5 linked regions of the Homo sapiens genome follow. The protein of the gene in region 1 purifies or fractionates together with the protein of each later gene. This does not show direct contact. Each region holds a gene or a part of one and is shown on either strand. Other genes may lie near its edges.

Evidence for each region.
Region 2: the proteins of UBN1 (region 1) and CSTA purify together in Homo sapiens (affinity purification with mass spectrometry, with the first as the bait; one large-scale study listed by BioGRID). This does not show direct contact.
Region 3: the proteins of UBN1 (region 1) and HAT1 purify together in Homo sapiens (affinity purification with mass spectrometry, with the first as the bait; one large-scale study listed by BioGRID). This does not show direct contact.
Region 4: the proteins of UBN1 (region 1) and WDR36 fractionate together in Homo sapiens (co-fractionation; one large-scale study listed by BioGRID). This does not show direct contact.
Region 5: the proteins of UBN1 (region 1) and NASP purify together in Homo sapiens (affinity purification with mass spectrometry, with the first as the bait; one large-scale study listed by BioGRID). This does not show direct contact.

What each region holds. Positions count from the first base shown.
Region 1 is NC_000016.10:4,876,215-4,881,507, forward strand, and holds part of UBN1 (ubinuclein-1), read left to right. Parts: intron 1-656; coding exon 657-897; intron 898-1,170; coding exon 1,171-1,260; coding exon of another isoform or gene 1,261-1,391; exon of another isoform or gene 1,392-1,638; intron 1,639-1,724; exon of another isoform or gene 1,725-1,835; intron 1,836-3,868; coding exon 3,869-3,918; coding exon of another isoform or gene 3,919-4,036; 3' UTR 4,037-5,293. UniProt on the Homo sapiens protein: Acts as a novel regulator of senescence. Involved in the formation of senescence-associated heterochromatin foci (SAHF), which represses expression of proliferation-promoting genes. Binds to proliferation-promoting genes.
Region 2 is NC_000003.12:122,334,023-122,340,605, forward strand, and holds part of CSTA (cystatin-A), read left to right. Parts: intron 1-3,524; coding exon 3,525-3,626; intron 3,627-6,583. UniProt on the Homo sapiens protein: This is an intracellular thiol proteinase inhibitor. Has an important role in desmosome-mediated cell-cell adhesion in the lower levels of the epidermis.
Region 3 is NC_000002.12:171,959,482-171,966,064, forward strand, and holds part of HAT1 (histone acetyltransferase type B catalytic subunit), read left to right. Parts: intron 1-5,856; coding exon 5,857-6,036; intron 6,037-6,305; coding exon 6,306-6,427; intron 6,428-6,583. UniProt on the Homo sapiens protein: Histone acetyltransferase that plays a role in different biological processes including cell cycle progression, glucose metabolism, histone production or DNA damage repair. Coordinates histone production and acetylation via H4 promoter binding.
Region 4 is NC_000005.10:111,111,853-111,118,435, forward strand, and holds part of WDR36 (WD repeat-containing protein 36), read left to right. Parts: intron 1-1,221; coding exon 1,222-1,301; intron 1,302-6,583. UniProt on the Homo sapiens protein: Part of the small subunit (SSU) processome, first precursor of the small eukaryotic ribosomal subunit.
Region 5 is NC_000001.11:45,610,490-45,617,072, forward strand, and holds part of NASP (nuclear autoantigenic sperm protein), read left to right. Parts: intron 1-2,679; coding exon 2,680-2,759; intron 2,760-3,606; coding exon 3,607-3,692; intron 3,693-3,803; coding exon 3,804-3,877; intron 3,878-4,523; coding exon 4,524-4,712; intron 4,713-4,815; coding exon 4,816-4,982; intron 4,983-5,847; coding exon 5,848-5,904; intron 5,905-6,136; coding exon 6,137-6,214; intron 6,215-6,583. UniProt on the Homo sapiens protein: Component of the histone chaperone network. Binds and stabilizes histone H3-H4 not bound to chromatin to maintain a soluble reservoir and modulate degradation by chaperone-mediated autophagy.

The sequences.
Region 1 (5,293 bases):
CCCAAAGTGCTGGGATTGCAGGTGTGAGCCACTGCACCCGGCCTCTTTTTCTAATATATAAATGAAGTGGTTGCAAAGACAAAACCATAGAAAGGTCTGTTGGAGGTCTCACCTCCTTTCCTGCACCCACCACCTCTGTAAGGTAACTAAGCTCTTTAGTTTCTGGTTTATTTTCCTCTTTTTAAACAAAAGATTAATAAATATAAATAAAGGTATATATGTATGTGTGTGTATGTATGTATATAAATATATATACACATATAAATATCCATGAACATTTATGGATATCTATATTACATTTTTCCCTTCACAAAGGAGGCTTTTTTTTTTTGAGACAGAGTCTGGCTCTGTCACCTAGGCTGGACTGCAGTAGCGCGATCACAGCTCACTGCAACCTCTGTAGGAGACATATTTAATATCCTGCTTTTAAAAAAATTATGTTCCCTGGAATCCATTCCATGTTGGTTCATAAAGACTGTCCTGGATCCTGTCTTTGGGGCTGCAGGGTCGGAGGGTGCCTCCCAGGGCCATCTGACATGGATGTGTATGTCCTCCTTTGTGGACACACAAGGAGGATCCTTTGTGTTGCCAGGTTTGGTGTGAGTGAGCCACGAACAGGACTGGAGTTCTTACCGCTTGCTGTGTTTCTTCCCTAGAAAGGAGCGAGTGGGACTGTGCTGCTGGCCGGCTCCTCTTTGATGGCTTCACCCTACAAATCCAGCAGCCCAAAGCTGTCTGGGGCCATGAGCTCGAACTCCTTGGGAATTATAACCCCTGTCCCTATTCCTGTCCATGTGCTCTCCTTCAGCGCTGACTCCTCTGCCAAAGCAGGGGTCTCCAAGGATGCCATCGTCACAGGCCCTGCCCCCGGGTCCTTCCACCATGGCCTTGGCCACAGTAAGTGCTTCTTTGCTGCCTCTGGTCACTCAGGAACCTCTAGATTGTGGCCAGGGGTCCTGCTGTTGTGTACTCTGGTTCCTGTGTTTGAGTCTGGTGTGTGACTGTGGGGAACATCTCCGGGAACTGTGCCAAGCCCCCACTGCCCCTTTGGGTGTGGTGCCCAGACTGGCCTGGCAGGTTATCGGGGGCTTTTGGCTGCTGGAGCTGCTTTCCTGTTCCTGTCTTCAATGTGTGTGTTTTGTTCTTTTCTCCCCTCCTGTTTTCTCTCAGGTCTTCTGGCTGGCTTGCACTCCAGCCCGCCCCATGCAGCGCCTCTCCCACACGCTGCGGTGCCCACCCATATCCCGCAGAGTCTGCCAGGTAATCACCCGACGGTCAGTGTGCCACGCGCACCGTGTGCCTTTGCCCTCTCCACCCCTAGGTGCTTTGCCGCTGCCAAGGGTCTTGGTGTCTTTGCCTTGACGCTGTTGTTGTTTTGGTTTGTCCTTTGAGGCTGTGCTTTGTCAGTACTCAGGGTGACACGCACTTCTACTCTTGGGGTTTCCTCTGGTCCCCACTTGGAGCTGCCGCCAGGTCAGCCTCAGCCTGTGTGATCACAGGGAAAGTTGCGGGGGGCAGGGTGGTGCGCTTTTGTGTGCGGTGGAGGAGTTCCTAACCCTCGGCTTGTTTTTTTCTCTTCAGTTTAAAAAAAAAAAAAAAGGGAAGGTAATGGTGCATCTTCTCCAAGGGCTAATTGGGTACAACAAGGTCTTGGAATGCAAGCTGCTCCACTGTCAGATGTGATTGCTTAACAGAAGGCTCTCTAAACTTTGTTTCCATTAAAGGGAAAATCCAGGTAGCAGCCAGAGGCCACAGTGCAAGACTTTGAGAGGAGCAGCTTTAAATCTGTCCAAGTGTGAAAACTCCATCAGAACAGATTTGTGGGAGCACAGCAGGCATGTGGTCGGTGCTCCCCTTAGCATCTTCTGAAATAGGGAACTTCTAAAAGCCTCAGGCTTGAGGCTGCTCTGGTAGCACCTGAGAACTGGGCTCAGGTGCCCCGGGTTGGTACCTTTGCATTGAGTGCGTCTGCCTCACCCTATCCCGAGTCTGCGATTCTTGGGTACGCCTCCTGGAATTCTGGCATGGGAAGTCTCATGGTGTCTCAGCTTTGACCTAGCATTGTTCCTACTGTAGACCCGCTTCAGACATGACCAGGGTGCTACTTGGATAAGGGGAGAGCCGCTCGTATGGAAGCCAGCCGAGGTAACCCTGGCGAACTGGTGCCAGGTGGAAGTAAGGACCCTCTGTGCTGCACGTCTCCCAAGTTACATCTGCCTCATGATGTGCTGTGGCTCCCTGGCACCATGGCGCATTATAGTAAACACCAGAGGCCATATGGGGCAAGACTAAATCTGTAAATCTCCACAATGGAAACTGTGCTTCTTTGAGGGGCTAAGCCTATAGCACTAGTGACTCCTCCTTTCCTTGGGAGGAGAAGTAAAGTGCAGTGACTTCTCTACAGACTAGAGGCTGCAGAGCCACCTTGGTGAGAGCAGGGGTCTTTCCAAAGTCAGGCTGCCCTGCCTTTGCTTACTCTCAGGAATGTTACTCTCAGAAAAGCAAAGTAATTGAGGCCGGACGCGGTGGCTATCACCTGTAATCCCAGCACTTTGGGAGGCCAAGGCAGGAGGATTGCCTGAGTCCAGGAGTTCAAGACCAGCCTGGGCAACATGGCAAGACCCTATCTCTACATTTAAAGAAAAAAATTAGTCAGGTGTGGTGGCATGTGCCTGTAGTCCCAGCTCTTTAGGAAGCTGAGGCAGAAGGATCACTTGAGCCGAGGAGGTCGAGGCTGCAGCGAGCCGTGGTCATGCTACTGCACTCCAGCCTGGGCAAGAGTGAGACCCTGTCTCAAAAGATTGCTTTCTGCTATATTTTCATTTTTCCTCTGGGTATGAAAAGGCTATCAGAATAGGAAGAATAAGTGCTAGTGTTCTATACCACTGTAGGGTGACTGTAGTTAACAGTAGTATGTAGTTTCAGTTAGGAGGAGGATATTGAACGTCGCCAGCAAAAGGAGATGAAAAACGTTTGAGATGATGGATATGCTAATAACTCTAACGTGACACTACACATTTTAGATGTTGAAACATCACTATGTACCCCATAAAATATGTGTCATTATTATGAGTCAGTTTTTAAAACTGTTTAAGGCTCTCAGAGGCTGGATGTGGTGGCATTGAGAGGCAGGAGGATTGCTTGAACCCAGGAATCAGAGGGTATAGTGTGCTGTGATCATGCTTGTGAATAGCTGCTGTACTCCAGCCTGGGCAACATAGTGAGACCTCATCTCTAAAAAAATTTTTTTTAATCAGTTTAAAAGTTCGAGGAAAAAGAAAATCAATCAGAAAAGCAACTATACCAAAACAGGGTTATCCAAGTGAGCTTCTCTCACTTCCTTAGATGGACTTCAGCTTATAGGATGACACGAGATGCGAGTAAGAAGCTATTTGCGCATTTCAGCTGCGTGACTTGTGTCTGCGTTGCTTTCCTTTCTTTCTTCTGTGGACTGAGAATGCTAGTGCCTTTGAATTTGTCTTTACAGGACCTGAGGGTCTTTTGATGGTAAGAGAATGAATGATCATTGCTGCCTTGAGTTCTGTGTGATCGTCAGGCCTCGCCTCAGGATGGCAATTGTAGCCTGAGATGACGTAGCCCAAGTTGCACAGCAGAGTTGCTGTTCTGGAAACACTGTGCTGAGTGACCACCGACCTTCACAGTGCTAGTGTGCTTGCAGGCTGTGGCCAGGAGTAGTGTACACGAATAACTGCTGGCTGGTGTCTCATGGCTTGTTTGAGCTCTAGAACACTCAGCATTTGGGGACTTTTGCTATTTAGGTGTCTCCCTTGAAGTTTGGTTACTACTGCCTTAAGGAAATCAGAGAGCATGAAAAACTTGCGTTCTAATTTTTCTTACTCTTTTCCAGGTGCTTCTCAGCTTCACGGGAAAGGGCCTGCTGTACCACGGAAATTGTGACCGCTTCAGAGGCAAGGCTTGCCACTTGGGTCTGGGTGGAATCAGAACGTGCAGGTCTCCCAGGATGTACACTCACTGCGCCCTTTCTGCTGCTTGGTGTTCTTCTGGAGGAGCGTGAGTTCTCAGCGGAGCGCTTCTCGGCACTTCTGATGTGCCTCCCATGGAGGGAGCCGGGCCCTTGCTGCTCAGGAGGTGCAGACTGCCCCGTGCTCTGGGCCTTGCAGCTCTGTCGCTAGACGGTTGTTAGAGGGGCAGCTCTAGGCTGGGGCTTGCGCTGGGCCGTGGTGGGAGGCACAGTGTTTACAGGCTCTGGTGGCAGAGCAGTTGGCACACCTGTGGGTGAATCTGCCTGATCCCCTGGCATTTGGTCAGAGTACCTCAGAGCACCCCACTGCTCAGGGGCTCCTTCTGGCTGCAGTAAGCTCCCTGGATGGTCACAGTGCCGCCCCATCCCCAGGCTGTGTGCTCAAAGCGGACAAAACTCAGGCCAGAGCCACAGCTGGGAGACCTGCACTGTCCCTGCGAAATACTAAGAACACCTAGGGTGTGCTCACTGTGGGGGCCAGTTTCTCCTCGGAACATGACAATGAAGCTCTTTTAGAGAAAAGACCTTTGTAGATTCAACAATTATGATAGGATTTTTACAGACACCTATTTTGGGCTCAGTTTTCATCATTACCATTAAATGCATTGGATAGAAGGGGACTGTTCTTCACACATCATATTATAGGAAGACATAATTCCAGTGCCTTTATGGTGGAGCAGAATTCGACAACACATGTCCATTCAGCCCTCTGAATGGATCTGAGACGAAGACCTTTTTAAAGATATGTCTGTATTGAAGAGAAAGCCAGTTTTGAGTTTTTTACACTTGCACATCATTATCTGTGCCGTCCTGACTAGAAGGTTGTCTGGGCCCCCAAATTCCAAGTCCCAGTATAGCCAGGGCTCCCATTTTGTTTTTCCAGAGTTCGTGGAGGTGGACTGCAGAGCCCAGAGCCCTTCATCTCTCTGAGGGTCAAGGATACCAGGGGTCCCAAGTCACAGATAGACATTCCAGTTTGTATTCTTAGGAATCATTCTTAGGCAGTGCGGCAGAAGCAGGCCTCTGTGAAGTGTCTGCCGGGTAGAAATAGGCCTTGAAGTCCTGGGGCTCTCCAGGCAGTGGGGTTATGTGTCGACTGAAGGGTGATGTGCAGAAGAGCTTGGAGAGTGGATCAGAGAGACTAGGACAGTTACTGCAGAGCTCCTAAGTCACCACTCAACCAGTGGCTGTTTCACAAGGATTTGAGGGCACTTGCCTGTCTTGTGAGGTCTGTGCCACAAGGTGAGTCTGAACTGACTGCTCCAGCTAAGTGATCAGGCACGTTGAGAG
Region 2 (6,583 bases), on another chromosome or scaffold:
TCCTTTGGAATTTTGAAAGGCTTTGGAAAGGGACCCTAAGACAATAACCTGTTTCCTTACTCTACTTCTCTGTGCATCCTTTCTCCGCTCTCCTGCCCCTAGCTCTTCCCACTTCTGGTTTGTCCTCACTATTTGTCTTCTCCCTTTCTCCACTTTGAAATTTCATTTCCATCTCAACAGAACAATCACACTTTTCCCGTCTATTCTCAAGGTTACAGGAGAACTGAGTGGTGGTCCGTGGAGTGTTTGGCCTTTCAGAAATGGTCTGAGAACTCACAGTTTGCATATGTCTACATCTTTGAAAACAGTTCTGGTACTCAAACTGAGGCATCAGTAGTAAAGGTTCAAAACATCTGCCCAGGGAGGATTGTTTGAGTCCGGGAATTCGAGGCTGCAGTGAACTATGATCACGCCACTGCACTCCAGCCTGGGTGAGGGGGAGATTCTGTCTCTTAAATTTAAAAAAACAAAAAACAAAAAAAACCTGCCCACTGATAGGAAGGACTGCCTTGGGAGAATCCTAGATGGACTGGAGGCCTGATTGAAGTTGTATGGACATGCAATGCTTTCATGAAGGGCATAAAAGCAAGTTCTCAATAAACAAGGTACATTCAACACAGAGAGTTATATCCTTTTTCCTCCAAAAGACAGAAAAGAATTGGGGTTGAAGGACAAATCCACAGACATAAAGACAACAGGAGATAGGCAAGTACCACCTCAGAAATACCAATAAAATTTTGGAAGTTGGAAAACAGATGAACAATGGAAAATGCTGAGCAGTCTAAACAGAAGCTAAGCCCATAGAGGGGAAAGTCTAAGCCAGAAGCAAGCAGATTCACACTGCAGAACGTCACAATGGCGCAGGCATGAGCAACACCAAAAAGTCGTAGCCAGGAGTAAGGTCTCAGACCAAAAGCAAGAGGACTGATCTGTATGAAGGACAGTGAGACCTCCCATAGTTCCTTCTCCCTCACTGTCCTCCACCCCGGCAGAAGACGAGCTTTACACTTAGCAGGAACTGAGTCAAGAGCTCATAGTAGACTCTTGCATATCAGGCCCAGCTGAGAGTGGGAATGAAGCACTGTACAGAAAGTTGATGGGCTCAGTAAAAGTTTACATATTGAATTTGGGACTGTCTCCCTTCTCATGCTGGGTTCGGGAATGCTGACATTTAAACCCAACCCATATCCCTCCATGGTAGACAGAATGATGGCCCTCCAAAGATGTCCATGTCCTAATCCCTGGAACCTGTGACTAGGTTCCTTTACACAGCAAAAGAGACTTTGCAGGTGTGATTAAGTTAAGGCTCTGGAGATGGAGAGGTTATCCTGGATTATCCAGGTAAGCCCATGCAATCACAGGGTCTTTATAAGAATTATACCCAAATACTGCACTCTAGTTAGTATATTGTTTTCCACAGGGGTATAGGTCAACAATTCTGAAATTATTTTATGTATATGCTAGAACTGAGAAAATAGGCGAATACATTGCAAATAATAAGAACCAGGATTCTTCCTCAGTGTTTGAGAAAGGAGTTATAATAAGGAAAAGGGAAAAGCTAAATGAGTCCTGTGGTATTTGATTTATTTTATTATTTATTTATTTATTTATTTATTTATGTATTTTGAGGCAGAGTTTCACTCTTGTTGCCCAGGCTGGAGTGCAATGGTGTGATCTCGGCTCACTGCAACCTCCGCCTCCCAGGTTCAAGCAATTCTCCTGCCTCAGCCTCCTGAGTAGCTGGAATTACAGACACCCACCATTGCGCCCAGCTAATTTTTGTATTTTTAGTAGAGACGGGGTTTCATCATGTTGGTCACACTGGTCTCAAACTCCTGACCTCAAGTGATCCACCCGCCTCTGCCTCCCAAAGTGCTGGGATTACAGGCATGAGCCACCACACCCGGCCGTGGTATTTGATTTTAATCAGAGGAATACACACACACACACACACACACACACACACACACACACGTACACACACATATATAATGTATATATATAATGACACACAGATAAATGTGTGTATATATGCACACACATACACAAATGCGTAAAGATGTGTGCATGTGTGAGTACACATATTATTTTGTAGCCCTTTCCACTGAGTGGGCCTAGAAGCAATGACATTTAGTAACAAGAGACACAGCACCCAAATCTTGGGTCTTAAATACCGTTCTCCAATAAAAGGAGCAGGGACTCCTTGGAGAAATAGTTGATTCCAGTGAGGAGGCAAGGAAACTTCAAGATAAACCTGGAACATCTGACTCTACTTTTGTAGAGTCAGAAAGTAAGGAAGTGCTTATAAAATGATGGAGGCATGTTGAAAGAACACAGGCATCAGGTGAAGGAGCTCCCAACGGCCAAATCTAGGGCATTTGAGTAACAAAATAGAGTAATGAATTGTAATCCACAGAGTAAAAGAAATATCCATGAGTCATATTAATATAAAATAAGTAATTGACTACATAAAGAGGAGAGAGGGAACAGCTCTTCCTTATGGCAGAATTCCAGATAATAAATGCACAAGAAATGATTTTTTAATTACCATTTGGCCAACACCACAATTAATCATTGTTGTAGGCAAGAACCATCAATGGATGCTAAAATTCATGTATGAAAGTATGGCGAGAAACAAGACTCCTCACAAGACACTTACTAATTACAAAGGGGAAAAAAATGGTAACTTTACCGTGGAGAAACCTGGCAGACATCCTAAGTGATCAAAATTAACATCACCAGTAATGAAACGTAGCTCCTGATAGGATGCACTTAAGCACAACATCACGTTTGTGCTATCCTTACAAACATGTATAATACTAACATAAGAGGAGATCACACAAACCTAAATTGAGAGACATTCTACCATTTAACAGGCCAGTATTCTTCAAAAACATCAAGGCCATGAACAAAAAGGAATGAACCCAGATTGTAGGAGACTGAGGAGAAATGACAACTAAATGCAATGTAGGATCCTGCATGAGATCCTGGAGCAGAAAAGAGACATTTTCAGGAAAACTGGCAAAATTCTGATAAGGTTTAGAGACTACTTAATAGTATTATACCATGTTAATTTCCTCATTTTGGTGATTATACTATGTTATGTAAAACGGCAAAATTAAGGGAACTGTAAATGATATAAGAGAATTCATTATACTAATTTTACAACTTTTAAGTCTGAAATCATTTTAAAATAATGTTTTAATCAAGTAGTAATTATTGCTCCACTGATTTTTATTAATCAAAGATACATATAACTCTTAGAGTTTTAGCAGTCAAAACGCTCCTATATTGCATTACCACACTGAGTTGATGTGAATTCAGCCTAAAGCAACAAAATTTGACTTTTTAACCTATGTAATTGTATTAAAACAGGTGTTTTCTATTGAAATAATAAAAATAGTTCATAGATTTCATTACCATCTTTGAAGACTTTTAGGAGGATGAGGTTCCCAGATGGGTACATTGCATACATGGAGTCTAATATAGCTTTGATTATTTGTTTCCTCTTTTCTTTTCTTTAGGTTAAACCACAGCTTGAAGAAAAAACAAATGAGACTTACGGAAAATTGGAAGCTGTGCAGTATAAAACTCAAGTTGTTGCTGGAACAAATTACTACATTAAGGTTAGAGTTCAGCACCTACTTTAGCGCCAAAAGATGTATTTCTCATTTTATGTAAAATATTCCCTGATTTCCCTACCACATAATTCCTTCCTTACGGTTGTCCTAAATTAAGATGCCCAGCATGATTCCTTCCAAGTGGTGGACTCTCAAATTTGGTAGATGATGTGACACCATTTTTTTTCTTGTGAATTCAGAAAGTTTTATTACATTGATTCTTGATTTCTGGAAATTGTATAGAAAAAGATTTCATAACAGTTCAGGGCATGCTGGATTTGTGGCTGTGCTGCTGCTTAGGTAAGGAGGGAGGATCACGTCTCATCTGCCTGAAGGTGTGGGGCTGGACCACATGGTATCTTGAAGCTGATTCTACCTCAAAGCTGTATGATTCTCTATGTCTAAATTAAATAAATTAAAGTAACGACTCAAATCATTAGCTGGGAAAATAATTTAAACCTTTTTTGCCCTTCAATTAATATAATGTAAATACTATTTTGTAACTCAAATTAGATTTAACTTGTGGCACTCTAGGCATAGTTTAAAAGAGTGGAGTATTTAAAATAGTTTAAAAGTTAATTTTATAGCTCTGTCAAAAAATTACACAATGCATTGATCGAGTTCTAATTGAAGTTATCAAGAGGAAACCAGTTGAACAAGTCAACCATGAATATTTGAGAGCCATGTTTGTCCTTATATATTAAGAAGATGATAATGCTGATTTTAAAAATAAAAACAAATATTCAAGTATATTTACTTAATCTTTACTTCACTATTTGACCAGGGCACAGTGTGGCTTATTTCTCTTTAACAAATATTTCTATTAAAATATAAACATTTTAAAAGATTTTTTCAGCAAAAAAAAAAAAAAAAGTAAGTGAAGTAAGTGGAGCTAGTCAGCTCAGCATAAGAAAGTTTCAGTACAGAGCTATGTACACAGATCAGCCCTGTTCTGCCAAATGTGAGCTCCTAGTAACGACCAGGTCCCGGGGAGACACATGTGAAAGAGGACCCTGCTGTATCCTCAGAAAACAATGGCACCATTTCCTCCATTCTCAATCTGCTTTCTTCATGGCTGGAAAAGAAAGTTTTCCAGTTAAAAATGATTATGTGCAAAGATAGGAAACATTCCATCAACATTAACATATTTAATAATTTATGATTAATTCAAATGCATAAATTTCACATATTACCAGCTCACATGTTTCTTCAACAGTTCATCAGATAACTATCTTGAAAATTTCTGCTTGAAAATTTGTTCCCTTGACCACCCTTTTGCCCTCTCTTAATCAGTCTCCTCTCTCTCTCTCATCTTTTCTTCCTTCTGCTATCAAACTTTTCCTACTGGATCTCAGCCACCGATCCCAGTTCCCTTTTACTTCCTGGTAGTCTGGCTGTTGATCCCTTTGCTCTGAGGCACTCTAGATTTAAGGTCTTGCCAGTGATGTGACCTTCTCTATGTATTTCAAGTACCTATCAAGAGGTAGGTGGTAGAATGGAAGGACCACAAGCTTAGGTGTCAGAGTGTCCTGGGTTTGAACCCTTGTTCAATTTGTTCTATGGGAAGCTCCTCCTCCTCTCTGAGCCTTCATTCCCTTATCTGCACAATGAGGGTAATAATCTACTTCGCAGCGTGTTGTGAGGAATAAATAAGCTGGAAATTTATTGAGCACTTATAATTCACTATGCACTATTCTAAGAACAGGGCTTATCTCATTTAATCCTCACAACAAATCTATGAGATAAGTACAATCACTTCTCTTGGGTTACCAACGAAAAAACTGAGTTCCAGGGTGGTGAAGAAACTAAAAAGATCACACAACTACAAGAGCAGAGTCAGGATTTGAACCCAGATAGACTGAGCTTAACTACTGGCTGTGCTGCCTCTAATATAAAGCACAAAATAAGAGCTTTTACAAGGTTACACTGGCCTGGTGTGGTGGCTTATACCTGTAATCCGAACACTTTGGGAGGCCAAGGTGGGAGGATAGCTTGAAGCCAGGAGTTTGAGATCATTCTGGGCAACATAGCAAGACCCTGCCTCTACAAAGAAAATGTTTTAATTACCTAGGCATGGTGATGCACACCAGTAGTCCTAGCTACTTGGGAAGCTGAGGTAGGAGGATCACTTGAGCCGAGGAGTTTGAGGTTGCAGTGAGCTGCGATCGCACCACTGCACTGTGAGCCAGGCCTCATTCCCCGATCAGTACCCCCCAAAAATGTTACATTGTAGAGTGAAAAGAATGTAGATGCTAGAGGCTAACAGATCTGGGTTTGAATATTGGCTGTGCCACTGACTAGCTGAGAGATTTATGGAAAATCACTTAATCTCTCCTACTCTGCTTCCACGTCTGTAAAAATTTCATTGCTCCACTTTTCTTCAGGCCTATAATATAGGTTAATATAATCATTTATATAAAATGTTCATCATAGTGTCTGGCTCACAGTAAACATTTGATATATGGCATTTGTTAAAATTAGGATAGGAAGTGACATCAGAAGCACAATAAATATTTGTATAAGACAAAGCATTTATTGTCTCCAGCAAGAACCAAAGTAAAAATTCTTACCATAATTTTCCAGGTCTCAGATTCATGTCCAAACTACTGCTTCTGCTTCAACCTTCCTACCAATGACTTCCTAGTAAAACCCCTTAGCTTTTTTTTTTCTTTTCTTTTTTGAGACGGAGTTTCACTCTGTCACTCAGGCTGGAGTGCAGTGGCACAATCTCGGCTCTCTGCGACCTCCACCTCCCGGATTCAAGCGATTCTCCTGCTTCAGCCTCCCAAGTAGCTGGGATTACAGATGTGCACCACCACACCCAGCTAATTTTGTATTTTTAGTAGAGACCAGATTTCACCATGTTGGCCAGGTTTGTCTCAAACTCCTGACCTCAGGTGATCCACCCACCTTGGCCTCCCAAAGTGCTGGGATTATAGGCGTGAGCCACAGTGCCCGGCTGG
Region 3 (6,583 bases), on another chromosome or scaffold:
AAATTAGGTTTTTCCATTTAGAAATACTGTGTTAGGAATAAGGAATCAATCTTTTATAATGTCTCTTTGTAGAGTTACTTATTTGCTTTGTGGTCAAAGATCATTTATATTGCGTATTCAAACAAAGACTTTTTTCCCCTTATTAAAAACGATTGGGTAGGGGATATGTGGGTCATGGGCTTGCTTCTTCTATCTCAGTTTGCAGTGAGTGTTCATTCCATAGTGCCTTCTGTGTTGTTGATGCCAGCGATACAGTGGCAGACAAAGTCATGGAGCTTACATTCTAGCCAAGAGGAACAGTCAGTAAACAAAATAGTAAATACACAAATTAAATTCAGGCAGTATTATGAAGATACATTTTGCTCATTTCTGAATGATAAAGGAGGAACCAGCCATGTTATAATCTGAGGGTAAAGCTTACTAAGATACAAAGGCTCTAAAAATACAGCATTTTTGGCATTTTTGTAGTCCAGAAAGATTACCAGGGTTAAATCATTGTGGTGATGGAGAGAGGGGTAGGAGATGGTTGAAGGGGATGCAAAGCTAGATCATCATATAGGATCTTGTGTTCTGTGATAGGTGTTTGCAAGAAATAAGAGTAGTTGGCATTCTTTAGAGGCATTCTTAAGTAGGTGGAGGTCATAAACAATGTGATTTATATTTTTAAAATATGATTCTGGCTGCTGTGCAGAGAACACACTGTATAGGGCAAAAGTGAAAGAAGAGACCGGAACATTGCAGTGTTAGAGGTGACACTGGACTTAGTTGTCAGAGTAAGGAACATTTTGGAGGTCTGCTGTTGAATTAGATGTGACAGATGAAGAAAAAAAACGAGAACCCCATTGCCCAAGTTCAATTATGGTACTGTTAACTGGGAAAACTATAGAAGAAATAGGTTTAAGTGGAAACAATAAAAAAATTTTATTTTGGATGTTAGGTTTGAGTCTAATATATTAGGGCTTTGCAGATCATACTGCATAGATGGTCAGCAGCCATAACATCTGCTTAGAAGTTATTTCTTATTAGGATTATGTCATTACATTAATTTTTAATCATCCATTCTTTTACTTTTCCAAGCTGAATGCTCTAGTTGCACCTAAAATTCTTCAGTCACAATTAAGATGCCTATAAAATCTCTACTAGCCACCATCTTTAAAGGAAACATAATTCTGAATTTTACAATACAATAAACTTGATTATTCAGACACTGATGATTTTTTCATCTGGTTGTCCTTGACCTTTGCTTTTATTAACACCTCCTGCTCTGTGCTTGTAATGCCAGCTACTCTGTAGGCTGACTCAGGAGGATCATTTGAGGCCAGGAATTTGAGACCAGCCTTGGTAACATAATAAGACCCTGCCTATTAAAAAAAAAAAATGCTGAACGTGGTGGCTCAAACCTGTAATCCCAGCGCTTTGGGAGGCCGAGGTGGACAGGTCACTTGAGGTCAGGAGTTTGAGACTAGCCTGGCCAACATGGTGAAACCTCATCTCTACCAAAAGTGCAAAAATTAGCCAGGTGTTGTGGTGCGTGCTTGTGGTCCTAGCTACTCAGGAGGGTGAGGCAGGAGAATCACTTGAACTCGGGAAGTGGAGGTTGCAGGAAGCCGAGTTCGCGCCACTGTACTCCAGCTTGGGTGACAGAGCAAGACTCTGTCTCAAAAAACGAAAACAAAAGCTAGGCATGATGGCATGCTCCTGTAGTCCCAGCTACTTGGAAGGCTGAGACAGAAGGATCTCTTGAGCCCAGGAGGTCAAGGCTGCAGTAAGCTATGGTTACACTACTACATTCCAGCCTAGGTGACAGAGCAAGACTCTTGTCTTAAAAACAAAAACCTCCTGCCTTTTCTTGGGGGTAATTTCATTGCCTTTTAGTGAAGTAGTGGGTAACTAAGATTGTTGTCTTGCTAATTGCTAGCATTTCTGGGAAAAGTTTGGTACAGGAAGTTGAAATAGATGGATAAAGTTTGTATTAACTGTGAATTTCAGTTATTTTATCCTAGTGTCCCACTAATTGGATTGAATTTGAGAGGATATGAGAGCAGATTTTAAAAATTTTATGGAGTGTTTAGCCTCTTTCTAGGAAAATCCTACATACTTCCAGAAATTTCGAAAAAATCTTTGGTAGACTAGTAAAATTTCAAATTGTGATGGTGTTCTTGATAAGTAATACTTTTTATGAAATATCATAAAGAGCTTTAAAAGTATATATTGACAAGTTTATCTTGTTTAGTTCAAGTAGCAAAATACTAATGCAGTGTAAATAAACATAATATGACCTTTGTTTTTCCATTAGTGAAAAAGTTCACACTTTTAATTTCTCAACAATACATTCTGTAGTTAAAGCTTAAATATTATCAGAGAACATGAGATTGAGAACATTAAGTAGATACAGAATTTCTTTTGCTTGTTTTTTTTTTTTTTAGCATATTTTAGGTAGTCTTAGAATTATAGTTAAGTCTATGTACCACTTTAGCCAAGTAAAGAACAACATGTTACCACCTACTTAACGTGCCTTTAATTTCAATCTCAAAAATAACTAGACAAATTTAGACAAATGGTGCTGCTTAAGATAAGATGTTAGAGAGGTTATTGGGTTTTCAAATGTGTATAAATACAAATATAAACATTAAAAAAATAGATTACTAATTATCAGGCATATCGCTTTATTCAATAATGAGGAAATGCAAAAATTGCTCCATATGAACATGTTCATGTGTAATAAAGTACAGAACACTGGAACTTGAAATGACCATAGTTAAATAGTATACAATCTAAAAATATTTCATAATGACCCACCTACCAGAATATCTAACTAGAATACTTTTGCACTTTCCTTTTTAAAAATAAATTACCAAGCGTTAGGAAACCATTTGTAAGAGATGTCTTTGTTAATTAAATATATCAGGTTGTATTCTGGTTTCTTTTTTTGAGACGGAGTCTCACCCTGTCACCCAGGCTGGAGTGCAGTGGCGCAGTCTTGGCTCACTGCAACCTCCGCCTCCCAAGTTCAAGTGATTCTCCTGCCTCAGCCTCCCAAGTAGCTGGGATTACAGGTGCACACCACCACGCCCAGCTACTTTTGTATTTTTATTAGAGACAGGGTTTCACCATGTTGGCCAGGCTGGTCTCAAACTCCTGACTTCAGGTGATGTGCGTATTTTGGCCTCCCAAAGTGCTGGGATTATAGGTGTGAGCCACCATGCCCAGCCTGGTGTCTTTTTAAAAATTTTTTTGAAATTCTAGTTCCCTGGTGTGTCTAGTCAGCTGAATTTCTTACCCTTTCTATATTTCTGTATAATTTTAGTTGAAGTTTAGAATAATGCTCTGGAATACAGGGAATTTTTCAGTGATCTTCAGAAATAGATTCTAAACTTTTAGCCACAAACATTGGAATTAAAAAGTTTCTGTTCATTTTTAACTCTATTCAATTAACAATGATTAAATGAGGTCTTGCTCTTGTGCTGATTTTATTATCTGATCAGTAATCCAATCTGAAAGACGAATATTTTAAATTAAACTAAATTATATATTTGAGAAAAGAGTACAGATCTCTAAGACATGGTAGTCAGGATTTTTTTTTTTCTTAAAGCAGAATCCATTTAATAGAGAAATGCAGACATTTTCCCTTTAGTGAAGCGAAGTTGTAAATTCTAGGTTGAAGAACTATTTGGTTTTAAGTTGTATATTTTATGTAAGTATATCAGATACATATTTATATACATAACTATTTATAAATATATATTTATATAATTATATAAAGATTCCTTGCTTTAAAATTGCCCTTTGCCCCGTAAAAATTCTTAATGTGTAAACTTACACAAAGCAAACTATTTTATTTGAAGATATTTATTACAGGAAATAGACATCCTTTGAAGGCTGAAAGCCCTTTTTCAACTTTGTTGGGCTCAAACCTTCTGGTTGCTCTGCCCGCCACCAAAAGTGCTACTTGAAACTTAGAGTTTCTGAGAAGTCTTTGAAGTAGATTTGATACAAGATATGTAAAGTGATTTGCAATGCCTTCTTGAGAAGACAGGACATAAGGAAAGTTTTTAAAAGTTAAAATTATACATGCTATGAAAGTCTTAAAGTGATTTTTAAACTGATAGATTATAAATCCCTTTTTAAAAGTAGTTTTTCTTGGCTTTTTAAAAACCTTAACTAACATACTATACTGTTTTACTCATCACTACTTTGGATTTTAATTGCTACACAACACATCTATTACAGCTATCCCTCATTATGACAGTTTCCTTGATAGCTGTTGAAATTGTACTGATACTATAAAATATGCTTACGATGGCCTCTTCATGTTAGCAATTTCAAGGAAAAATATTTATCAAATAGTACTTTAAAAATAAGCAAAAACTGTCCTATGAAATGCAGTTTATTTGATCTAGAGTGTGAATGAGTTGCAAGGACTGATGTACATATTAGAAATAAACTGTTGGGCAAAATGCTGAAGAGCTATATTTTCAATAATAGGTCTTTTTTATACCTATAAACAAATTATATATAAATGTTGGTGGTACCAGAGCATTGAAAATAAAACTTGTTTGTGATAAACGTCATCACTGGTTCTCTATCCTGAAATGTAACTGAATCATAATAAAGTGCTATTCATCTGCAGGTGCATTGCTTCTACTTAGTTAAAAGATGGTTGAAAGGATAGGAATTAGTAGCATGTTGTATTAGCCTTTTGTAGTGTATTTTGTCCTAAGCATCTTAATTTCCCTGTTTTGAATGCTAAGTAGCAAGGGTCTTGGTTTAGAACTAATACCCATCATGCATGTAAACGGTATGAAAGAGCTGCTTAGTAAGTTAACACAAAGTGTTCTTGTGTCAGTCCTTGTGGAAATAGATACAATACAAACATTACAGCTGAACTCACGGCAAACTCCATTAAGTAAAAACCTGGCCTCATTGTTCAGGAAAAAGTTTGAATAGAATACAAGCTCATTTTGTTGAATGTAATGTCAGGCTTTTAGGGACTGTATTGAGGGATAAGGTTTTGTTAAGTTGAGACCAATTCATTAAGTTTTATTGCCTGGTGAGAAGCAGCAATACTTTATTGTAAGACTTCATCAAATATTCATGGTTAAAGAGAAGTAGTAAATGTATTCAATCAAGTGGTCTTTTGGGATTTTGAAAAGGATTATGAAGTCTGCTCAGCTGATAACATTGATAGAGGTTGTTTAACAAGGGTAATTTTAATCTCCGAGTTTAGTTTTGTTGTCCAGTCTTGTCTCTTTTTTACTGTCACAAATCCAGGTCTGTAAGAATTGTGTCACATTCTAAGGATAAAAGAATGATATATCCATTCATATAATTTATGTTATTTCCTAAATATGTATATTTTTAAGTTATCATCTTAGTTTGAGTTTGGCATATGAGGGAATTGTGACCCATCTAGTTGTGAGATTGCTATTCATTTGGTCAGACTCTAGTCTCATCTCACCACTGCTGGTGATCTTTTCATGTCTTGGATAATATGATTTCTTTGACACATATAAAATAATAAGCAACCTTTTGCCTTGGCCAGTTCAGACTGTCATGAAGGGGTATAGTCAGCTGTTTCTGCATAATGGAAATGTCCATAGCATTGCCCTTATTATTGTACTTGGTATCAGGTCACCTGCCTTCTCTTATTTACTTTTATATTATGCTCATCTCAGTTTTGTGTGATGCAGTTTGTGCACAGGAAGCTCATCCTTTTCCAATTCGCTGTGTGTTTACTTCTTTAGTTTTCAACCAAAGTTTTGTAATTTGTGTTGGTTTTGTCAGTTTTAAAGAAATAAACCATATTCAACTTAAAGTCGAATTTGTTATTAATTTTTTATATCCTTTATTCTTTAGGCAGATGATGTTGAGGGCAAAATTAGACAAATCATTCCACCTGGATTTTGCACAAACACGAATGATTTCCTTTCTTTACTGGAAAAGGAAGTTGATTTCAAGCCATTCGGAACCTTACTTCATACCTACTCAGTTCTCAGTCCAACAGGAGGAGAAAACTTTACCTTTCAGATATATAAGGTAAAGATAAATCTAAATATTTATTGAGTAAAGTTCTATTTGCCTGAAACCTGTATGTAGTTTTGTTGTCAGTGATTTATTCTAACTGCAGTAAACAAGTTTTAATCAGCATTATAAACCAAGATCTATTTTGTGTGTATGTCTGTATCTATGTTCACATCTTAATCTGAGACTTCTAAACATTTTCCCACAGGATAATTTTGTGTTCTGCGGACTTTCACTTACCTTTGTGATGAGTTTCACCTGACTTTTCCTGGCTTTTTCCCTAGGCTGACATGACATGTAGAGGCTTTCGAGAATATCATGAAAGGCTTCAGACCTTTTTGATGTGGTTTATTGAAACTGCTAGCTTTATTGACGTGGATGATGAAAGATGGCACTACTTTCTAGTGTAAGTACAGTTCTAAAGCAACAGTAGACCTTATTACCTCCACAAAGCCAGCATTTTAATTGTGGCAGCCCAATTATTGGGACAGTATAATGATATTTTTCCCAGGAAAGAAAAACTATTGTTTATGAGGCTTGAGTTTTCCTTCATTATGCTTTG
Region 4 (6,583 bases), on another chromosome or scaffold:
TTGAGGACCATATTAAGTGTATATTATCATCTTTCATCAATTGCAGATACCTTGATTTGCTTGAAAATAGAAAAAGTAAAATAAAAATAAAATCTTAATACTTAGTGACGAACCCAACAGCTGCATTTACTAGTTCTCACACCAAAAATCAGAATTTACTCCTTTCCTTCAAAATTGAAGAAAAAAAACATGGTCAGGACATTGTGTTCTGCAGATAGGAGGCTGGCAAAATTATACATCAGCAGAATTTGTTTTGACAGCATCTGTAGAAATGAGGGTGGGATTGGGTTAATTGTGCTGAAATGGCACTTTTGAAAACATCTGTCAGTGTCAAGTTGCTCTTCCTATTTCTTTTTCAAACCTTACTTTCAACTTGTATATCTCGAGTTTCCCTGCTCAGTAATAAGTTATTCCGGTTAGTCAAATCTGTGAGCATTTATAACATGACTTTACCTCTCAGAATCATTCTTTCCCATCCTTTACTATCTGTACCACCCTTCTGTAAATTGATCTATCTATAACTTGAGATTTGAGTTCCCATTGTATTACTGCAGCCTGAGGAACAAATCAACATTTACGTATCCCAGTATCATCTACTAATTTAAACTGATGGATGAACAGTCTACTACAACTGTAAACTTTAAAGTTTTTCCTTTTGGGTCATCTTTCACCTGTGATCTGGTTTGTGCCTCACAACCCTTAGGTACTACAGGCAGAGAGATCTATTATTTATCCATTTTCATAGCTAGAAAAAATAATGGGTGGCATAAGTAGTTTATTTAAATTTATTTTGAAAATCTGATTATTATAGTTTGTTTAGAAATAAAGCATTATTAAAAGAGAAAAGATTTTTAACTTAAGCTTCAAGAAAAGTAAGCCCTTATCACACACATAAACATTGTCTATAAATAAATAGAAGATTGTGATTTGAAAATTAATGCAGTACACTTTTTTAACTTTTAATAATTCATTTAAAAGTCTAATCTTTATCCAGATTCCAAATCAGTGGTATTTAGGAAGTGGTATTTTCTTTTATATAAAATAAGGCAGCCTGAATGTTAGTCAAATTAATTTTTTTATGAAGCCTGCATTATCTTTTCATTTATTACATTCTTTAAGGTGTTAACTATATATACATACACACATACATACAAATATATTCATATATATTTATATATAAATAATATATATATATATATATTTTTTTTTTTTAATTTAAAGGCTTTTAGTCCTGATGGTCGTTGGTTAATAAGTGCTGCGATGGATTGCTCTATTAGGACTTGGGACCTTCCTTCTGGGTGGTAAGTTTATATTTCTAATTCCCTAACCTCTATAAGATTTCTAAGTTATTTTTTTCACATGTGACTTTTACCGATAGTTAATGGGTTATATGCTTTTTCAATGTGACTATATTTGGAGATTTTTCTGACATGACTATATTGTATCCTTGGAGTGTTTTTGATAACTAAACAGCAGGTAGTAGTGTCATGAAACATAATAGAAAAATGAAATCTCTCTTAGGTTTTCTCATCCTGCAAAATTGAGATACAGAAGCGAGATGCCTAAACCTTAAGAAAGCTCATTTGACCTTTTTGATACTCCAAAATAAAGCTCAGACTTAAGGATGGCAAACTTTTGAGTTTTTTTAGTTCATGCTGAATTTAGTTAAAAGGTCAAACCCCCTAACTTTTCCTTTTTGTATGTCTCTTCTGCTTCTCTGACATAATTCTTAAAAGAAGGCATTTTAGATAGTCTTAGTGCATTTTCTGTTGCTTATAACAGAATATTGAAACTTGGTTATTTCTAAAGAAAAGGAGTTTATTTCTTACACTTTGGGGGATTGAGAAGCCCCAGGTCAAAGGGCCATATCTGGTGAGAGCCTTCTTGCTGGTGGAGACTCTGAAGAGTCCCAAGGTGGTATGGAGAATCACAGAGTAAGGGGACTGAGCGTGATAATGTAATAGCTTGAGTCTGTCTTTCTCTTCTTATAAAGCCACCAGTTTCCCTTTCATGATAATCCCTTAATCCATGAATGGGTTAATCCATTAATGAGGACAGAGTCCTCATGATCCAATCACCTCTTAAAGGCACTCCCTCTCAATACCATCACATTGGGGATTAAGTTTAAACATGAGTTTTGGAGGGGACATTCTAACTATATCTTAAAGTGGTGAAAATGTGTGTCTTCGGATTTGGTTAAAACGTAACAAATGTTCAGAAATCTGTTTCATGGGTTGAAATTTGCTGCTAATCCAGGGCTTTAAAGAGAAAGTGGTATGAACAGAGGAGACATACAGAATGTGTCGGCTTTGTTGTTAAAAATTAAGTAGGTATAGATACCATTTAAAATCATCTCATTTAACATAGGATTGCTTAGATGAGTATGAAGAAAGGAAGAATTGTGGGAATAGCAAAACATCTAATTTAACAGTAACATACCATTAGAGAAAGATAGGTGAGAAAAATGAGAAGGAAGGTGGTACTTTTTAATCTAAAATATTCCCAAATTAAGCTCTGTTCACTTCCTCTTCCTACTCAGGAATTGGATAAGCTCATACATGAAAACAGTTTGACCTTTAGGAAGGAAAAACCCTGATGTCCTCAGTTCCCTTCGAGTTCGAAACAGGCCTGAGGCATACCTACCCATCTTGCATATACACTGGATTTGTAGTAAGCACAGCTAACGATTGTCACTAGTGGGTCCAGCTCTAATAATCAGGGACCTTTGTCCACAGGTTTGTCTCTTTCACTTAAAATAGAGTGAAGCAAAATCGAATTTATTGACTGTATCCTCCTCAGGCTTCAGAAAGTTCACTTAAAGTTGGTATTTCTTCAATTAAAAAAACATTTTGTTAAAGACACTATTAGAAATATTAGTGGTCTGTCACTTCTTGGGCTGTTGCTATTTTCTAAAAGTTAATGTTATATAATTTGAATTGCTTTAAAATAAGAAAGTTGTATAAATAGTAGAGTTGGCATAGTGCCTTTTTCATTTTCCTGTTTAATAGTTTTAGTTTATATTAGTGAGAGAGATAGATTATTCAGTAGTAGTAAATTGGCAATGTATTATAAGTGGTAAATTCGTCTTTGGAATGAAAAAATTAGGATCTGAAAGTAGCATTCAAAGCCACTAACCTTTGACTCAGCATTAGCCTTTTGCTGAATTTCTTATATCAGTAAGAAGTTGAACAGATTCAAATCTGATAGATTTTCAGCTCTAGTATCTTTATTTTTAGGTGAACAGGCAATTTTAAGTGAATAGAGAGGCATGAAGCTGGGTGTAGCACAAGAGCAAGAAGTGACCACATCGAATTGTTAAAAGAAAATGTAATAAAATGTACATTGATTGAAGAAAAGTATATTTTTATTAAAGAAAAAAGTTTTGGTTAAAATTTGAAGTGGACCAAATGAGAGAGCTTGAATAACTATCCAACAACTGCTGCTGCTTAATTGCAACTAAGCTAAGATTTACAATGTGCTGCTAGGCACTGTTTATGCTTTTATTTTTCATATCCTAACAAGTTGTAGGTACTATTACTGTTATTAGTCCCATTTCAAAAATGAGGAAGTGGAGGCTATTAGAGAAATTAAGTGATTTGCCCAAGGTGACTTAGTTTATAAATGACAGAGCGCAAAATCAGCACAGGAGAAAGAAATAGCTTTCTTAACACTTATGTTATCATCTTTGCTCAGACTGTGTCTTGTTTTAAGTATGAACTGATTTGCTTGGAAAAAAAAAACATAATTAGTATGACAACCTTTGGAAATTCCTAGTTCTTCTTTCAATTAAATAATTTGAATAATGAAAACAAATTACATAGCCTGGAAAGTGAAGCTATCTATGAGTAAACCCTTGAGTGTATTAACATACAGGTATATCCATCTGGAATTGTGCCTATCTGAAACAAATTGCATGGGTATTAAAGTTTCCTGTAAAGTTTTTTTAAAGTGGTGAAACATTTTTTATGTTTGTAAAATTTTCAGAGGAGCAAAGTTGAAATTTTTTATCTAAAATTATCATTCCTCTGCCACTACCACCACCTTTTATGTCTGGTTGTTTTTGATCTAATAGAAATTCAGATTGAATTCTTTCTTATTTTTTTTTTCTGAGACCAAGTCTTGCTCTGTCGCCCAGGCTAGAGTACAGTGGTACGATCTCGGCTCAGTGCAACCACCGTCTCCCAGGTTCAAGCAATTCTCCTGCCTCAGCTTCCCGAGCAGCTGGGACCACAGGCGTGTGCCACCATGCCTGGCTAATTTTTTTTTTTTGTATTTTTAATGGAGCTGGGGTTTCACCATGTGGCCAGGCTGATCTCAAACTCCTGACCTCAAGTGATCCACCCACCTCAGCCTCCCAAAGTGCTGGGATTACAGCCATGAGCCACGGTGCCCAGCCAGATTGAGTTCTTTGAGGGGTGAGAAATATATAAAATTAAATAATCTTAATAGAATTTTTCATTTGTTCTGTCTCACCCCACCCCTACTTCCTGAGGAGAATTACATGAGAATAATTGGAATAGAACATTGTTTTCAATTTCTCACTGAGGCAGAAACATCCCCTTCTTCCTTAAAGATTTCTGTGGAAGGTGATTTTAGCACTTTGGAAATAGAACATATGGAAGCAGTCTCCATTTGCTCAGAATAATAATCAGAAACAACCTTCTGAATTGTTATGCAGGGCTCTGATCTTGTAAATCTGATCTCTTAGAATAGGAATTGTTTTAATATTATTTCAGAAAAAATTGTAAGGTACCTTGGGACTTACTTTTTTAAGATTACCATGAAACTGTATGGTAGTTTTAGGTCTGGGATGAGCCTGTGCATTTATGTTTCATGAACTAATGTGGCAGTGTAGAATATGCTGTGTATGTGGAAACCACCTTCCTCAATTTGGTGGTTTTATATAATGGAAGTCCCATCTACCCACACACCACAGCTGTGGAAATGAAGTTACACAATGAAGTTGACAAGATAATTATAGTTTGAAGTAAAATAAGTTTGCTCAAGCAGTAAGCTTTTTAACAGATAGTACCTAAACATGTTAGGAAGTTTTACCCTTCACGTATGTAAACTTTTGATGAGTAATATTAAGACAAAGGAAATACCTTAAGATTTGAAATTGCCGTGTTTTAGGTTTAATCTTTATATGTGTTAGGATAATATCTTCATCTCTGGATTGTTTGGATTAAATGACTTAACATAAATAATTTAATAGTGTATGGCATAGAATAAGTATTTAGCAAATGTTTTCTTTTCCCCAATTCTCTTGATTCCCAATAAAAGCCATTCTTGTGGGCTTTCAAAACAGACTTGAACAGAAATCAGACAGGTTATTGCTCCCTTCCCCATAATGGACAATTAAACAGCAGTCCTTTTCCTGAACACACTTTGATGTGTGTGTGTTTGTTTCCAGTGCTTCTAATTGTTGTCTTTTCTTTCCATCTTGCATTCATTGTTTAAGGTTTACATTTTTATTGGCTCTTTTAGCAAATTGAGAGAGGCGTTTTACCATGGGCAAGCAACTTAATGCCTCCCACTGGACAGTCTTCATTTACATTTGAGCTGCTCACAGTGTGTGTCCCATGAATCACTGATGTAGGCATACCCTCAGTGTGTGTAAGCTGTTGCCCTGTTTTTGTGTTTTAGTTTCAGTAGTGGCTTTACTAGAATTTATATTGGCTAACAATATAAATTGGGTAGAACTGCTTGGGTAAAAATCCTGACCCAGTTGCTTTCTACCTTGAGCGAGTTTTCAAATCTTACTGGGCCTCAGTTTTCTGGACTGATCCGCCTTAATAGGGTTTGTGAAGATTCGATTAGTTAGCACGCTCAAGTGCTGAGGATACTTCCTCACACAGAACACTAAAAAAGTGTTAATCTTGTTCTTGAAATAATTTGTATTAATGTACATCCGGAACTTGAGTCATTTGTGTGTACCTTCCTATGGATAATATATTGGCTTCAGAAAAGCTGTAATTAAAAACCAGTATACTCTGCTTAAAGCTATTCTCGCTTTTAGCCAGCCTAAGGGGTCTTTCAGCAGGATTCAGATGAGTGTAGGCCTTTCTCTTTGCTTCTTAAATCTACCTCTTTTCACTTCCTGCTACCACCATCCTAGTTATCTTTGTTGATTGTTAGATGATTACTACCATACTGTCACCATTCTCTCTGTTCAAATATATTCTGCATTCTGATGGCAAGTTTTTATGGAAGTGAAGATTATGCCACTATCTCCTCTTAAGTGGTTAATGACTTTCCATCGATTATAAGATTAACACAAACTCAGGTGTTTGATATGTAAGACATTGTATGCAGCCTTATGCTTATGCTTAATGGTCCTACAAAACTGCACTCCTCACTCTACACAATTGTATTTTCCCTTGCCTTATCCACCACATTTCTCTTAGCCAGGAAATGCTTTCTCTACTAGACACCAATATCCATTGAAATCCTGTCCATTTGTAAAGCTCCTCTCAAACATAAGTGTTCTCTGTGAAGCCCATTCTGAGTCTTCTACCTGGTTTGTGGTTACTCTCCCTTTCACCCCAACTTGTAAATCCCTTCAGCAGTTTAAAGCTATGGG
Region 5 (6,583 bases), on another chromosome or scaffold:
AACTTCCAAGCAGTTTTTTTCACTTAAAAATTAAAACCCTGTTTACTGCCACCTCTTGACTCTTTGCCATGTGTTGGGCTGTACATTTGCTTCTAATAAAGATAATTGGTCTGTTCTTTTTCTCTTTGAATCGGGTCTTGCTCTTTTGCCAGGCTGGAGTACAGTGGCATCGCAGTCATGGCTCACGACAGCCTCAAACTCCTATGCTGAAGCCATCTTCCTCCCTCAGTCTCTCAGGCAGCTGAGACTATGGGTGTGTATCACCATGCCCAGCTGGGGTGCAGTGGTGCGGTCTCGCTCACTGCAACCTGCATCTCCCAGGTTCAAGCGATTCTCCTACGTCAGCCTCCTGAGTAGCTGGGACTAAAGGCACATGTCCCCAGGCCCGACTAATTTTTTTGTATTTTTACTAGAGATGGGATTTCACCATGCTGGCCAGGTTGGTCTCGAACTCCTGACCTCAGGTGATCCACTAGCCTCAGCCTCCCAGAGTGCTGGGATTACAGGTGTGAACCATTGCACCTGGCCCACCATACACCATTATCTTCTCATATCCACATTTCCAAGTGGGTCCGGGCTTAGTTCCCCAAAGTTAGACCAGATGGATGGTCTTATTAACTCTGCCCATCCTCTAGCAGAATATGCAGAAAAGCTGAAGTAGATTTACATATGTAGGATAATTGATAGAAAAGTAAATACTTCATCTTCCCAATTTGTAGGAAAAATTAAATTGATATTGTTATCTTCTATTCTTACCTGGTATCTCTTCCTACTCATACCAGAATACTAGAAGACAACCTCTAATTTGAAACAAAATATCTTAATTACTTGGAAGTTTTACATCAAATTTTTAAATTAAAATTCCTATAATTGCTTCAGAAGAATATTACTGGTTCCTCTTGAGGAATCTGTACCATCTTCAAGGAATGGTGGGGAGCTAGGTTAAGGAGAAAGCCATCGCCATTACTTTTTTTTTTTTTTTTTTTTTTTTTTTTGAGACAGAGTCTTGCTCTGTCACCCAGGCTGGAATGCAGTGGCGTGATCTAGGCTCACTGCAACCTCCGCCTCCTAGGTTCAAGTGATTGTTCTGCCTCCGCCTCCCGAGTAGCTGGGACTACAGGCATGTGCCACCACGCCTGGCTAATTTTTTGTATTTTTAGTAGAGACGGGGTTTCACCGTGTTAGCCAGGATGGTCCCAATCTCCTGACCTGGTGATCTGCCCACCTTGGCCTCCCAAAGTGCTAGGATTACAGGTGTGAGCCACCGCGCCTGGCAGCCATTGCCATTACTTTAAAACCTTTCCCAACTTGTGCCCAGGTATCAATGGCAATGCCCTGATGTCCTCAGTAAATTTGTTAAAGTATCTTTTTTTTTTTTTTTTTTTTTTGAGACGGAGTCTTGCTCTGTCACCCAGGCTGGAGTGCAGTGGTGCGATAATCCGCTCACTGCAAGCTCCACCTCCTGGGTTCACGCCATGCTCCTGCCTCAGCCTCCCAAGTAGCTGGGACTACATGCGCCTGCCACCACACCTGGCTAATTTTTTTGTTTTTTGGTTTTTTTTTTTAGTAGAGACGGGGTTTCACCATGTTCGCCAGGATGGTCTCAATCTCCTGACCTCGTGATCCGCCCGCCTCGGCCTCCCAAAGAGCTGGGATTACAGGCGTGAGTCACCGCGCCTGACCCTGTTAAAGTATTTTCTAAGCTTCTTTGAAAACGGAATCTCTTTGTGGTTGCTGCTGATAAAACTCCTTTGACCTGACGATTGCTCTAAGTCCTAATTGCCATATTTATATTCCCATAGTAAGAGTGTTTGGAGATAGTGTTTGAGCTTTTTTGCTGGTGTTAAAAATGCATAATGAAAGATGGCAGAGAGAGGCATATTATATCCAATTCATGAGTTGTTTGTGTTAACAGAAAGCTTATTTTAATCACTTAACATTGTTGATTTGTCTAATCACAGTAGCGCTATTGATTAGGAGCCTGACCTTTAGATGGTTGACTTGTGAGTGTATTCAATATGGTGAAATATGGTGTTGATATATGGCTGCAGATTTTAGAGGTGTCATTAGCAAAGGTATAGGAGTAAAATAGGGGTTATAGTATTCCTTACTCAAATTCTGTATGTGCTAGAGCTGGCTGGAGTCTGTGGCATGCTCATTGGTGTAAGTCGGTAAGGACTATGCTTTTTGCTCCACATCTCTGTTGTGGGAAAGCTAGTCTCTTGAGCATTCTTGATCAGAATGGACTGGAATAATTTAACTTTCGTACTTTCCCAGGCTATTAGTATTATCTAATGAGTGGCTTAAAGATACCAGAAACACTGACTGAGGTCTCCACCTGCTTCTGGCTGAATGAATGGGAGCTTCTAGCCATTGAATAAGAGGCAGTAGCCAATGTTTCTTATTCTGAATGGTCCAGGTTGACTTTTATAAGAGAAACACTCAGCCTTTTAATTGCTGAAGGTCTGACCCATAGACTAAGATTGCACATTCTTAGTCTAGGTTACACTTGAACTAGACTGCACCCACTGACGATATATTCAGTTCAGGTGTTAACTCACTTGGATTAGCATCTGGCCTGTCCTATCTGAATATAGGTTGAGACGTGTATTGGAATCTCTGACTAGTCAGAATACGTTCTTAGTTATATTCTCAATACTGAGGAATTTTTACTTGTAGAAACTGAAGGCTCAGAAGAGGATGATAAAGAAAATGATAAGACCGAAGAAATGCCAAATGATTCAGTCCTTGAAAACAAGGTATGTTGTTAGCCACTCAGTACTGTTGTCAGCCTTTTTCTGTTTTTGGGAGACTGGAGCTCACTCTTGTTGCCTAGGCTGGATTGCAGTGGGGTGATCATGATCATGGCTCACTGCAGCCTAGACCCGGGCTTAAGTGATCGCCTCACCTCAGCCTCTCAAGTAGCTGGGACTACAGGCTTGTGCCAACATGCCCAGCTAGTTTGCAGGACTGTAGCTTACCTAGTTTAGGCACGATTATTATTTTTTTAAGAGATAGAATCTCTGTCTCTGCCCAGGCCGGAGTGCACTGGCATGATCAGGGCTCACTGTATCTTTAGCCTCCTGGGTTCAAGGAATCCTTCTGCCTCATCTTCTCAGATAGCTAGGTCTCCAGATGTCTGCCACCATGTCTGGCTAATTTGTTCTCTAATTTTATTTTGTTTAGACGGCTGTCTTGCTGTGCTGCCCAGGCTGGTCTCAAACCTGGCTTCAAGTTATTCTCCTGCCTCAGCCTCCCAAAGTGTTGGGATTATAGGCATAACCCACCATGCCCAGCCCTAGGCATGATTATTATAGATAACTGTCTCTTGATTATGGATTAGGGACCCTTTATTCATGCCTAGGATGGGTGGATATATTTGATCCTGGGGTTCTTGTGTGTTAGTATGTGAGCCAACATTTCACTGTTAAAATATCAGTGACATGGTCATGACTTAAGACAGTATGTGGACCCATTCTCTAGATTTTAGGGAGAAAGTCCAAATTTTGAATCGTATATCAACTTTTTTTAAGCTACGCTAAGTTATACATTTAGATTTGTATTTGAAAAAGATGCCTATCTTTTTATTATTTGGTTATACTTTAGTCTCTTCAAGAAAATGAGGAGGAGGAGATTGGGAACCTAGAGCTTGCCTGGGATATGCTGGATTTAGCAAAGATCATTTTTAAAAGGTAAAACTCTTGGTGCTTCTAGGCTTGGGTTGGGAGTTTGGTGGTTAAATAGAAACCAGTTAGGGTTAGACAGGTACTGTTAAGGTTTTTGATCAATTTTCCTTCTTTTAGGCAAGAAACAAAAGAAGCACAGCTTTATGCTGCCCAGGCACATCTTAAACTCGGAGAAGTTAGTGTTGAATCTGGTAATGCATTTTCCATTTTATACTCTCCTACTCTCTTCAGCTCCCTCGTTCTTCCTCTAATAGATTCTCTGGAACCGAACTTGATCTTTAAAAAGATAGGTCTGTGTTCCCTGTAGACCCTGGAACAATGAACAGTCTCTTCCAAGTGGCACTCAGTCTTCCAGTAGGTTTGTTTTGTTTTGTTTTTTTTGAGATGGGGTCTTGCTGTGTCGCCTAGGCTGGAGTGCAATGGCGTAATCTCGGCTCACTGCAACCTCCGCCACCCGGGTTCAAGCGATTCTCCTGCCTCAGGCTCTCGAGTAGCTGGGATTACAGGCACCCACCACCACGCCCGGTTAATTTTTGTATTTTTAGTAGAGACGGGGTTTCACCATATTGGCCAGGCTGGTCTTGAACTCCTGACCTTGTGATCTGCCCGCCTCAGCCTCCCAAAGTGCTGGGATTACAGGTGTGAGCCACCACGCCCAGCCTCAGTAGGTTTTTAAAAGTCATTTTGACTTTCTTTATAGCCAAGGGTCCTGGAAATAACTATAAACAAAAATGGAATGTTAAATATGGGTGCATTCCCATAGGATGGGTCTGAATTCTGGAAGTATTTTATGTTGAATGCTGTCCATTTACTTGCTCTTCTTTTTCTCTTTGTTAGAAAACTATGTGCAAGCTGTGGAGGAGTTCCAGTCCTGCCTTAACCTGCAGGAACAGTACCTGGAAGCCCACGACCGTCTCCTTGCAGAGACCCACTACCAGCTGGGCTTGGCTTATGGGTACAACTCTCAGTATGATGAGGCAGTGGCACAGTTCAGCAAATCTATTGAAGTCATTGAGAACAGAATGGGTGAGTGAAGACGAGCTGCTTCATGGTGATGTTGGATCCAGCAATTAACAAGGAAGAAAACAGTTCTTTTTTGAGCCATTACTAATCACTTTATTCTTTTTAGCTGTACTAAACGAGCAGGTGAAGGAGGCTGAAGGATCGTCTGCTGAATACAAGAAAGAAATTGAGGAACTAAAGGAACTGCTACCCGAAATTAGAGAGAAGATAGAAGATGCAAAGGAGTCTCAGCGTAGTGGGAATGTAGCTGAACTGGCTCTGAAAGCTACTCTGGTTGGTTCCGTTAACATTTTGATAATAGCATGTTTGGTACCATTTATGTTAATGTTCTATTTGCCAGGAACTTTTCATCATGACTTGGTTTCCAGGGAGTTGGTGGGCTCATCTAATTATTCCTATCAAGTAATGCAGTGGTTAAGAGGAAATACCCTGGAGCCCCAGACTATCTGGGTTTTAATTCCATACTTACGTGTGGCCATGGGCCTTTCTCTCCCTCAGTTGACCGATTTGTAAAATGGGGATAATACAGGTTGAGTATCCTTACCTGAATGCTTGAGACCAGAAGTGTTTTGCATTTCAAATGCTTTTGGATTTTGGAATATTTGCATCATACTCAACAGTTGGATACCCTTAATCTAAAATCTGAAATGCTCCAGAGAGCATTTCCTTTGAGTGTCAGTCAGTCCTCAAAAAGTTTCAGATTGTTGGATTAAGGGATGGGATGCCCGACCTGTAGTACATATGTGTAAAATATACTTCTGACAGTACTGGAAAAATAGACATTTCTTAAAAAATGTAAGTTGCTATTTCCATCTCCAAGAACTCATTTGCATAAATTAATGAGGCATTGAGAGGCATTCACCACAAATTGCCTGGTTCTGTTTTTGGCACAGACCTTTTTACCCTGCAGGTAGGATATAGAAGATTTAGTTTATTATGTACACTCTATGTATAGACTATGCTCTGGGTGGCTGCTAGACAGGCATAGGTGGGCCAGGGGTAGAACTGGATACTATATGGAGGCCACTAGCATTTCAGGTCTTAGTCAGTTGTTTGGATGGTGATGGGTTCCTGTTACAAGGCTGTGGGCGGCCTGGGTTCTATCTTCAAACTAATTTGGATTTGTCATTTCTCGCAGGTGGAGAGTTCTACTTCAGGTTTCACTCCTGGTGGAGGAGGCTCTTCAGTCTCCATGGTGCGTATTCAGGTGGTTTTTTGGTCACTTACATTAAGTCTCAGTGTTGGCTCATGCCTGTAATCCCAGCATTTTGGGAGGCCAAGGCAGGAAGATTGCCTGAGGCTTGGAATTCAACACTAGCTTGGGCAACATAGTGAGACCTTGTCTCTGAAAAACTAAAAAATTATAAAAGCCTCAGCATTGATCTCATATAGCTTGTACAATTGCTAATAAGGGCTTATTTTGCCAGATTGCCAGTAGAAAGCCAACAGACGGTGCTTCCTCATCAAATTGTGTGACTGATATTTCCCACCTTGTCAGAAAGAAGGTAAGTCTACATGTGGTGTTTCTTTTCTACCGTTTCCTCAGACTCCATTTTTAATCCCTTTCCTATAAACCCCTCCCTATAGTTGGTGCATATAAGACACTTATTTTCCAAAGGTGGTAAGGATTTGTGAGTGGAGACTGTTGTGTTTTGTTTTGTTTTGAGACGGAGTCTTGCTCTGTCACCCAGGCTGGAGTGCAGTGGCGCAGTCTCGGCTCACTGAAACCTCTGCCCCCCGGGTTCAAGTGATTCTCCTGCCTCAGCTTCCCAAGTAGCTGGGATTACAGGCGCCCGCCACCACGCCTGGCTAGTTTTTGTATTTTTAGTAGAGACTGGGTTTTGCCATACTGACCAGGCTGGTCTTGAACTGCT